2 separate regions of the Homo sapiens genome follow, and region 2 is linked to region 1. The links come from fine-mapping of genetic effects on gene expression. A gene starts in region 1. The other region holds a variant in brackets. All regions are shown on one strand. Distances are between the middles of the regions. Region 1 holds the start of MORN1 (MORN repeat containing 1). Region 2 overlaps SKI (SKI proto-oncogene).

Region 1 (5,359 bases):
CTGGGCGACAGAGCAAGACTGTCTCAAAAAAAAAAAAAAAAAAAAAAAAAGAGAGAGAGAGAAGAAAACTAGGCAGAGTGGCTGGGCGCAGTGGCTCATGCCTGTAATCTCAGCACTTTGGGAGGTTGAGGTGGGCAGATCACCTGAGGTCAGGAGTTCGAGACCAGCCAGGCCAACATGGCAAAACTGCATCTCTACTAAAAATACAAAAATTAGCTGGGCGTGGTGGCAGGTGCCTGTAATCCCAGCTACTCATGAGGCTGAGGCAGGAGAATCACTTGAACCTGGGAGCCGGAGGTTGCAGTGAGCCGAGATGGCAGCATTGCACTCCAGCCTGGGCAACAAGAGCAAAACTCTGTCTCCAAAAAAAAAAAAAAAGAAAAAAGAAACAAAACTGGCAGAGAGCAGATACAAAACTGCGTGAGAGGAGTACAGTGGCGGGAACGTCCACACCACCAAAGGTTCACGGCACTTGCCTGGGGTTGGTGGGGGTACAGGTGTTATCGACTTTATACTTGCTTTTTTTGTTCTGTTTTGAGACGGAGTCTCAGTCTGTCACCCAGGCTGGAGTGCAGTGGCACAATCTCAGCTGACTGCAACCTCTGCCTCCTGTGTTCAAGGGATTCTCCTGGCTCAGCCTGCCAAGTAGCTAGGATTACAGGTGTGCCTTACCACAACCAGCTATTATTGTCTTTTTAGTAGGGTCAGGGTTTCAGCATGCTGGTCAGGCTGTTCTGGAACTCCTGACCTCAAGTGATCCGCCCACCTTGGCCTCCCAAAGTACTGGGATTACAGGCGTGAGCCACTGCGCTTGGCTTGACTTTACACTTTCTTTCTTCTATTACTTGGATTTACTACAAGAGTAGGTTCTCTTTATAATAGGAAATAAACCATAAAGCCAGTTTTCAGTCTGGAAAAGACAAATGAACTCAACCTCTAGGGAGAATTTCAAAGTCGCAGCTTCCTTTGCTAAAGGTGGCCCTCCAGGGGGGTCTCCCAGGCCTCTGTTTCCCCTGCCCATCCAGCCTTACCCTGAGCAGCCAGGGAAGCACCAGGGTACAATGGGCTCGAAAGCTACAGGAAATGCCACTTGCCCACCCAACCTCCCGGGGAGAAACTGGTTTCGTCAGCTGTGGGGCAGCAGCTGCAAGAAGAGACCACAGATGCTTCTCACCGTGCTTCCTCCCTGCTTTCCATTCTCCTTCATATCGAAAGAAGGAATTTGGGTATACGTAGACACCATAACCTGAGTATTGAGAAGACACACACAGGTAAGCACAGACACAGAGATGAGGGATGCTCTCCAGTGCTGAAGGAGGGAGTGCAGCTCCCTTGAGGGCCTTCAAGGGGTTGGTACACGTCACCTTCAGCAGACCAGAGGCGACCTGTGGGGCTCATGAGCTCTCCTGTCGACTGTTGGGCCATTCATTTGCTCATTTGTTTATGTGACAAGGATGAGGACCTACTTGGTGCAGAGAAGACAGGCCCAGTAAGAGGAGGGCTGGCTTGAAACAACTGCAGGTCCTTGAGAGACCAGAGGTGCTCGGGAGGTGGTGAGGAGCAGGTTGGGAGCCTTGTTGCAGGAGATGAGTGAGCCAGGGGAAGGCAGAGCGGCAGTGTCAGTGAGGCACACAGGGGAGGAGCAGACTCTCCCATCCCCTGCCGTGGCCCTTCAGTGGCCTCCTATCGCTGGGGAGAAAATCCACACTCATACCCAAGGATGGCCTGGCCGGCTTCATCTCCTCCTAGTTGCTGGGTGTGCCACCCGCCAACTCCTGCAGTTCCAGGAATGGGCAGGGCTCCCTCCCTACCAGCTCCTCAGGCACATTTTGTGGGCAGGGTTTATGGGAAAATGTCGGGGAGGAGGGCAGGGGGTTACTACAGGCTACTGTATCTGTCCCAAATCAGGGTCAGGTTCTACCTGAAGATAGTAGTGTTAGCTCTGAGTTCATTCCAGACCCGTTTATTTGATTCTAGAAACAGTTCCTATCAAAACCTGCTCTTTTTTTTTTTTTTGAGACTGAGTCTTGCTCTGTCGCCCAGGCTGGGGTGCAGCGGCGCGATCTCGGCTCTCTGCAACCTCCGCTTCCTGGGTTCAAGCGATTCTCCTGCCTCAGCCTCCCGAGTAGCTGGAACTACAGGAGGCACCACCCCGGGCCAATTTTTGTATTTTTTAGTAGAGACCGGGTTTCGCCATGTTGGCCACACTGGTCTCGAACTCCTGACCTCAGGTGATCCACCCGCCTCGGCCTCCCAAAGTGCTGGAAGTACAGGCAAAAACTGCTTTTGAAACGCGTCCTAGCGTTTCTGGACAGCACCGGCCAGGAAGTCAGGAGGCTTGGTGCTGCTCCTGCGCCTGCCCTCGCCCCAAGTCCTGGGCTTCGGGATCCCCATGGCAACCCCAGGTCCCGCTGGCTGTGAGGCTGCGGCCGGAACCCGGTCTTCCCGGCTAGGAGCCCGCGGGGGGCGACCCCCTGCAGGGCTTGGCCTGCTGCGGGAGGAGGGCTCGGGGAAGGGTGCGAGCCGAGCCCGAGGCGCACGGCGAGTCCTGTGGGAGTGGGGGACGCGGGGGCGGCCCTGGCTCCGCCGCGGCACCTGGACCTCTACTTTCCGAGGTGAGCATTTGGGGGTCGAGGGCGTAGAGCGATCGCACCCTGAATGGAGCCCAGGGCAGCCAGCGACCTGTCCCGTGGCCCGCAGTCGTTACCGTTCCGGGGCGGCCGCCTAGGCGGGTCCCGACGCGGCCCGCGGGAGCTCGGGGTGCCCTCGCCCGCCGCTGCCATCTTGCCGCCGAGGGTTCTCTTAGCGACCAGCAACGCCCGCTTCCATTGGTCTTTGTCGCAAGGGGGGGTGTGGCCACGGGCCTAGTCCCTGAGCCCGCGCAATCTCTGGAGCGAAGCTAGCCGGGCCCGGAGCCAGAGGACGCAGCTGCGCCTGTGCGCGTTTCCGCCGCTGTCGTCTCTTCCGCCGGGAGGCCCGCCCGCCAACGGCCTGCGCGTCTGCGCCGGAAGCGGAAATGGTTGGAGCCCTTGGCCCCGCCCTCGCGCCATCTTGGGGGCCCTGGAGGCGGCGCCGCGGAGGACGGAGCGGAAGTGCTCGCTGCAGCTTCCCGGAGCCGGAGCGCAGCGCCTGCGGCCGCCCGTGCCCCGCCGTCCTCCTTCCCGCGGCCGTGAGGGAGACCGCGGCTCGGCCGTAGCGGAGCTGCGAGGTGCCAGGAAGGGCTGCGTGGCGCGGGAACGGCCGGGCAGCGCCGCCTCCGCTTCTTCCGGGCTGTCAAGGCCGCGGGCGGGCGGGGCCGCGCTGAGGGCCGGGCGGGGAGGGCCGTCGGGGCCCGGGTGGCCGCGGGGACCGTGTTCCCGACCCGCGGCCCTGAGGGGTACGGGTCGCGCCTCGGGGTCGGGCCCGGGACGGGGTGCTGGGGGGTGCGGCGGAGCCCTGGGGCCTGCGAGGGTCGGGGGAGCGGGAGAGGGGCCGGGCGGGGGCTGCAGCCCTCGAGCCACCCGGGCCGCATCTCGTCCGCATCCCCTGCTTGGCATCTGGGGGAAGCGGGCAGTCGCGGCCCCCACAGCGCTGCGAGTTGGGCTGTATTCCAGAGTAATGTGCCCTGTCCCCATCCTGCGTCCAGGTCAGCGCTTATCTGTAGGATTTAGTGTTAAGCTCTGGGGTGAAGGCGTTACTGACGGGCTGAAGGGAAACTAGTTACATCGGTTTTGATCGTATTCTAAATAGGCAATAAAATCATAAATTCTCCAGGCTGACTTAGTACTGGTCTGTGGCCCCACTGATAAAGGTATCGTTCGTTTCTCTGCCAGGTGTCTCACAGCACAGAGGGCTGCTTTCAGCCTAAGTACCTTCAGTGGGCTTTTGCCCTTTTCCCTTTATGAAGAGTAGAGACTGGCCGCTAGTCCTGGAAGCACTTTATTTTTAGTTGAGTTGACATTTCCCAGGAAGATGCAGTTATCCCCGTAAGTGGATAAAGGGTTCTCAGTAATTCAGACTCTCACATGGCTTCTGCCGTATGCCTGAGGTGACGGCGACGGCGGTAACAGTGTGTCAGAGCCAGGTGGAGATATAAGATGGTCAGGCCCAGAGGAGCGGGGAGCCCAGGCTGGAATGTGGCCTTGGGAAGGAGGAAGAGACGGGGTCTGGGAGGGCATTTCAGAGGACTGAACAACACCAGAGGCGTGAAGCTTGGTGCACGGCAGCCGGGGGCTTTCTTAGTCCCGGAGGAATTGGGGATGGGGACGTGAAGAGAAAGGTGGGAGCCAGACTGTCAATGCTCCCGGACGCCAGGCAGAGGACTTCATCCTTTCCACGTGCAGAGTGATGGACCACAGATGTGGATGAATGTGACGGGCCTGGAACAAGGCACATAGAGAGTCTTACACTTTCTGGCACGTCCTCATGGTCTCTGCTTGGACTGGTTTTATCTCCCTTTCTGTTTTGTTTGTGACCAGGCATAAAGCAGTCACCTTCAACAGGTAATTGATGGGCTGTCTACTATGTAATGGACTTCCAGGTGGCAGGGCCCAGCCCCGAACCAGACAAGGGACCCCTCAAGGAGCTTCATTCTAGCAGGAGAAAATTGAGAAGTAAACCAGAAAGGTATCAGGAAACAGTTGTACACAAAATAAAAATAGGGTGATGTGATGTAAGGGACTGGGGGTCAGTGTGGGCGGTAACGGAGGCCTGTGAAGAGGAGGTGGGCTTCAAACTGAGCAGAGAAGAGGACTGCAGAGGGGGCAGCTGGTGTGAGGGCTGGCCCTGATCCAGGAACAGGGCTGGCACTGCCTTGCCCGGCTCCAAGGGTGCTCCACGGGCTGCCCACTGATTCCTCACGAGAGCCTTGTGGAGAAGGCATGAGAGGTGCTGTTGTCCCATTTCACAGACTGGAACCTGAGGCATCCTGGAATAGCCTGTCCTAGTCACACTGGCAGAGAGTGGTAGAGCCAGGATCTGAAAGCAGGCTGTTGGAGTCCAAAGTTCACGTTCTTGCTCCTGCCGCCCTGCCTCAGGCTATTCCTGGCAATGCGTTCAGTCAGGGTGCAAGCTGTGTTTGGTATACGTGTGTGTTTGGTATACGTGTTGTGTGTGTCAGACAAGCAGGATTGGCTGATGGCGTTTTGAGTAGGTTTTCTACATGTTCAGTTGGAGAGTGAGAAGTTCTGAGCTTTGCCTAGAGAACACCCTTTGGCGGGAGAGCTGGGTATTTTCTCCCTGACATTACTCTCATCACCTCCAGTCCAGTAAAAGTGCTTTAATGGGAAACAGTCTGAGTAAAACGGGGAAACTTACAAGGAGCTATAGGACGAACAATGTGACGGGTGGCTTTCAGATGGCCTGGCTTTGGCCTAAATAG
Region 2 (5,359 bases), 110 kb before region 1:
TCTTCAGAGAGAGGACGCCCGAGAAGACAGGCGGTGGCGGAGATCTTCAGAGAGAGAGATGCCCGAGAAGACAGGCGGTGGCGGAGATCTTCAGAGAGAGGACGCCCGAGAAGACAGGCGGTGGCGGAGATCTTCAGAGAGAGGACGCCTGAGAAGACAGGCGGTGGCGGAGATCTTCAGAGAGAGGACGCCCGAGAAGACAGGCGGTGGCGGAGATCTTCAGAGAGAGGACGCCTGAGAAGACAGGCGGTGGCGGAGATCTTCAGAGAGAGGACGCCCGAGAAGACAGGCGGTGGCGGAGATCTTCAGAGAGAGGACGCCCGAGAAGACAGGCGGTGGCGGAGATCTTCAGAGAGAGGATGCCCGAGAAGACAGGCGGTGGCGGAGATCTTCAGAGAGAGGACGCCTGAGAAGACAGGCGGTGGTGGAGATCTTCAGAGAGAGGACGCCTGAGAAGACAGGCAGTGGCGGAGATCTTCAGAAAGAAAGCCCAGAGTTCCATAGTGGGCGGGTGGGCAGTATTTCGGCTTGTGTGGCACCAGGGCAGGGCCTCCGAACCCATGGAAAGCCTTGCTTCCCCCAAGCCCGCTGGCTCCCAGCCCTCCACCCTCATGATAGGGCCTGGGTAGGGGCTGCTGGTCACCCTTTACCCCCACCCAGGAAAAGGTCAGGAGGCTGGGCTCCCCGTCAAGGAGCGGTTTCCAGGGACACCGGCTCTCGGGGGCGCCAGTCCTGTCCTTGGCGCCCAGCACATGCTACTAGTGACATTCGCAAGGGTGGGTCTGGTTCTCAGCCTCCGACCTGTCACCCCGGTGTGGGCCCAGTGACCTCAGTGAGCTCCTCCTGTGCCCTAAGCTGAGCCACTGTGTACACTGAAGAGGAGGCTGGGGTCCTGTGTGCACCTGGCCCGCTTCCCTTGCCGGTGCTGGGAGACGGGAGCCAGTCTCGGACCCTCATCTGCCAGCAGCTCCTGTGGCTGTGGGGGCGCAGGCATCTTGGCTGACTAGGGAGGATCCCGTGGGAATGACCCCACGCCATGGCCAGGGAGGCGCCCCCACCCGGCCCAACCGCCTTTGTCGGGGATCCTGAGAGGCTTTGTGCGGAGGCTGGGTCCCAGGCTGGGTTCCGAGGGTGCCGGTGCGCCCCTCCTATGGGTGAGGCTGTCTGCTTACAGTTGAACACTTCTCCCCACTTCTGCGCCAGGCCTCACTCAGTCTCCCCAGCACGGAGCTCTTGTTGCTGGCCCAGGGCCTGTCCAGGTCCTTTGACAGGGCAAGGACTCAGAGCCTCAGGGGGGGGAGGGCAGGGCCTCCTGAGGAGTATGTCTCTGTGAAAATGGGGGTGAGGAGGTGGCAAGCATCGCCTTTTGAGGACAGAGTCTTGGAGAGGTGTTGGCTTTCTAGGGAGGGCCCTGTGATTCTCCTGCAACCATGTGGGCCGGGGCCAGGACCAAAGCCATCGTGCTGTCGCTGTGGATTTGGTGGCCGCTTCCCCTGCTCAGATGTTGTACTGCAGGCCTGGGCCTTGGCTTGGGGTCTCTGTGTCTCCATGTTCAGGACAGGCTTGTGGCTTTGGGTACCACGAGGGGCCATCCAGCCCAGGGGGCTTCAGGGAGCTGCCCCTCAAGTGCATGTGGGGTGCTGGGGTGCAGCCCTGCTGCCCATGGCCCGGAAGTCCAGGCAGCACTGCTCTGGTTCGAAGCTGCCCCAAGGGTACGGGAGGCCCGTCCACTAGAACTGAGGCCTGGCACCATGTTGTGTCGGTTTTCATGGCGAGAAAACATCGTGGGCGTCTGCTGGGGCTGGAGGAGGCGGGAGGCCGAGGCAGCAAAGCTGACCCGCTGGCGGGTGGGGGCCACTGTGGCGTCCCCTTCCTGCAGGAGGCGGGGAGGTGCTTGTTTCCCTCCAGAGCTGCTGTCTGCCCGCAGCTAGTGCCCTGTTAGCAGGTGCAGTGCCCGTGCCATCTTCTCCCCAGACCCAGACCCTCCCCAACTCATGGAGACCCTGTCCTCCGGGCCATCCCCCGTCCATGAATGCCCGGGGCTTGGGGTCCATCTCCTGTCCACATGGACCTCCCCTCTTGGGTGTCACAGCTGCATCAGAGGCCCCAGAGGCCGGCCCTGGGGGGCTCTGGCCCCAACACAGCGTCCTCCCCGTTCCACTGGCCGGGGCTCCCTCAGGTTGCTGCCCTGCCTCTAGATCCCTGATCCCTGGACCCATGCTGCCGAGACGTCCTGGTAGGGTTGAGTTCCCTCCTCTCCCACCCCGAGGCGGCCTGAGAAGAGCCTCTTGGAGGTTCAGGTGACCTGGCCTGGGTCAGCACAGTAGAGGCGGAGCTGCCCTCAGACCTCTTTTGTAACAGTTATCTCATGGAAACCTAAAACCTAATTGGGCAACGGCAGCTCCGTGTGAAGTAGAGATTGTCTGGAAGAGATTTGTCCCTGTTCTGTGGAGCAGGGCAGATGCAGCTGAGGTGCCTGGGGGGGCAGGGACCCTTCCCCAGTGGGCTCACCCCAGTGGTGTGGGGGTGGTAGAATTCAAGCTCACACCGGCCCAGAGGGCCCGCTGTCCGTGTGGACCTCCTGTGACTGCATGGGCCTCTTGCGGCGGCTCCCTCCCGCCCCACACCGGCCTATGAGCCCTCCCTGGCCCCTGGGTGGCTGGGAGGGCTCCAGGCAGGGAAGAGTCAGGGAGGGGTGGATGGCCGGCGTGGCTGTAAGAATGACAGGTGGACACGGGGGCCCACCTTGGCCTGTGCTGGGGGCCCCGGTGGCTGGAGAGTGAGAGTGGGTGCTCTCACTGAGGGTCTGACCCTGCTCCGCAGTGCAGTGTGGAGGTGGTTTTGGTGCCACACACAGCACAGGTGCACCA[T/G]GCGGGCCTTTCTGATGATCAGAATTCATAAGTGGTTTTATTTTGTAAATTAACAGGACAGAAAAGCCTTTTTGTTCTTGCTAAAGTTTTATGATTTCGTGTTTGGGCCACCAGGGTATCTGGAGGCTGGGGGCAGTCGTGGCCAGGGTCAGAGTCTGGGTTGGAGATAGGTGTCATGCGGCAGTTGGTGTGGCCGTGTGGACTTGTCCCCATCTGTCTAGTAAATTTCCATCTGCCCTGACGTCAGCTGCCTTTTTGACATGCATTTGGAAGGTGTTAACAAATGGACTTAGATTCTTCCAGGCCGGTCGCAGTGGCTCACACCTGGAATCCCAGCACTTTGGGAGGCCGAGGCGGCTGGATCACCTGAGGTCAGGAGTTCAAGACCAGCATGGCCAACATGGTGAAACCCAATCTCTACTGAAAATACAAAAAAATTAGCTGAGCGTGGTGGCGGGTGCCTGTAATCCCAGCTACTAGGGAGGCTGAGGCAGGAGAATTGCTTGAACCTGGGAGGCGGAGGTTGCAGTGAGCTGAGATCGTGCCACTGCACTCCAGCCTGGGTGACAAAAGCAAAAGTCTGTCTCAAAAACAAACAATAAACAAACAACTCTTCCTTTGAAAGTTTTGTTTTGTTGTTTTTGTTTTTTTTTTGAGACGGAATCTTGCTCTGTCACCCAGGCTGGAGTGCAGTGGCGTGATCTCAGCTCACTACAACCTCCGCCTCCCGGGTTCAGGCAGTTCTCTGCCTCAGCCTCCCTAGTAGCTGGGATTACAGGTGCCCGCCACCATGCCCAGCCAATTTTTGTATTTGTAGCAGAGATGGGGGTTTTTACCATGTTGGCCAGGATGGTCTCGAACACCTGACCTCACATGATCTGCTCATCTGGACCTCCTAAAGTGCTGGGATTACAGGCGTGAGCCACCGCACCAGCCAGAAGGTTTTTTTTTTTTTTTTTTTTTGAAACGGAGTCTCGCACTGTTGCCCAGGCTGGAGCACAGTGGCACGATCTCGGCTCACTGCAAGCTCTGCCTCCCCGGTTCACGCCATTCTCCTGCCTCAGCCTCCCGAGTAGCTGGGACTACAGGCACGCACTGCCACACCCGGCTAATTTTTGTATTTTTAGTAGAGATGGGGTTTCACCACATTGGCCAGGCTAGTCTTGAACTCCTGACCTCGTCGTCCACCCACCTTGGCCTCCCAAAGTGCTGGGATTACAGGCATGGGCCACCACGCCCAGCCTACTGTTCATCTTTACCTTGTGTAATGCCAGTTTAAGACGCAAATGCAGGTCGGGTGCAGTGGCTCACTCCTGTCATTCCAGTGCTTTGGAAGGACAAGGTGGGCAGATCACTTGAGCCCAGGAGACCAGCCTGGGCAACATGGAGAAACCCCATCTCTACAAAAATACAAAAATTAGCTGGGTGTGGTAGTGTGCCTGTAGGCCCAGCTACTCTAGAGGCTGAGAGGGGAGGATCACTTGAGCAGCCTGGGAGGCAGAGATTGCAGTGAACTATGATGATGCTACCGCACTCAGCCTGGGTGACAGAGTGAGACCTTGTCTCTTTAAAAAATCATAAAATGCAAATGTAAGAGTGTTTAACTTGTGGAATCATCAAAATTGCACAGTTCTTGATTTGAACCCCAAATATAATAATTAAAGTGCGTGTGCATTTTATTCTTACCACATCAGGGCAAACGCTGCCCAAAATGAACCTGGCTGTTGGAGTTCGCTTAACTCACCCATGTGGCCACGCAGCTCTCGCTCTGAGTGAGGACAGACTGCGTGTGGGGGCTGTGGGCGCCTGTCTCCCTCCCTCCCAAGGCTCCGGTCGTGGGCTAGTGGGAGAAAGTGACTGGGTGGGACCAACGCGACCTCCTCCACTGGACGCTCTTTACACGGGCTGGGAATGGCAGTGGGCTTGCATGTGGCGTGTGCCACCTCTGCTCATGCATGCTCTGTGGTCACGGAGAACTTTGCTTATAAAAGAACATCTTATCAAAGGTGAAACTGTTCAGAATGCCAATGATGGGGACAGAGCGTTAAGCCCAGGACATGGCTGCGTGCCCACAAAGCCAGCTCTGGATGGAAAAGTAACGAGTGGAGGGCGTTTTCTTCCCAGACCCGGTGGTCCAGCCGTGAGTGTCCAGCTGCAGGCCCCACAGCAGCCAGCTCTGGGCGAAAATCTAGAGGGCCCCTGCGCACCCTCCCGCCCGGGGTGCCCTGGCCCAGGGTGCACCTGTGCTCTGGACCCTGGGCCGTGCGGGGCTCCAGGGCGCCTGGAGACTGCCATTTTGTGTGGGAAGGTGGAGGCGACTTGGGAATGCGTTTCTTTAGATTTTAAAGATGAGAGAGTGTTGGCCTTGGACAGGAAAAATTCCAATTTGGTGAGAAATGGAAATATCCAATTTTTTTTTTTTTTTTGAGACTGAGTCTGGCTCTGTCGCCCAGGCTGGAGGGCAGTGGCGCGATCTCGGCTCACTGCAA

What was found. PIP is the estimated chance that this variant, and not a neighbour inherited with it, causes the effect.
Region 2: its variant is fine-mapped to the expression of MORN1 in pituitary (GTEx, PIP 0.96).

The regions. Positions count from the first base shown.
Region 1 is chr1:2,388,751-2,394,109 of GRCh38, forward strand. It overlaps MORN1 (MORN repeat containing 1), which reads right to left and starts at 2,804. Exons shown (of 14, transcript NM_024848.3): 1 at 2,708-2,804; 2 at 1,175-1,246. The coding sequence starts at 2,783. RER1 (retention in endoplasmic reticulum sorting receptor 1) reads left to right here and starts at 3,091. Exons shown (of 7, transcript NM_007033.5): 1 at 3,091-3,208. RefSeq lists silencers at 1-50, 2,377-2,506, 2,667-2,736, 2,867-2,976, 3,077-3,376 and enhancers at 2,800-3,094, 2,963-3,835.
Region 2 is chr1:2,282,059-2,287,417 of GRCh38, forward strand. All of the region lies in intron 1 of SKI (SKI proto-oncogene), which reads left to right. Among named protein-coding and RNA genes, the nearest start is that of SKI, 56 kb to the left of the region's middle. RefSeq lists enhancers at 1,124-1,793, 2,464-3,132. The variant T/G (reference allele first, on the strand shown) is at 2,871.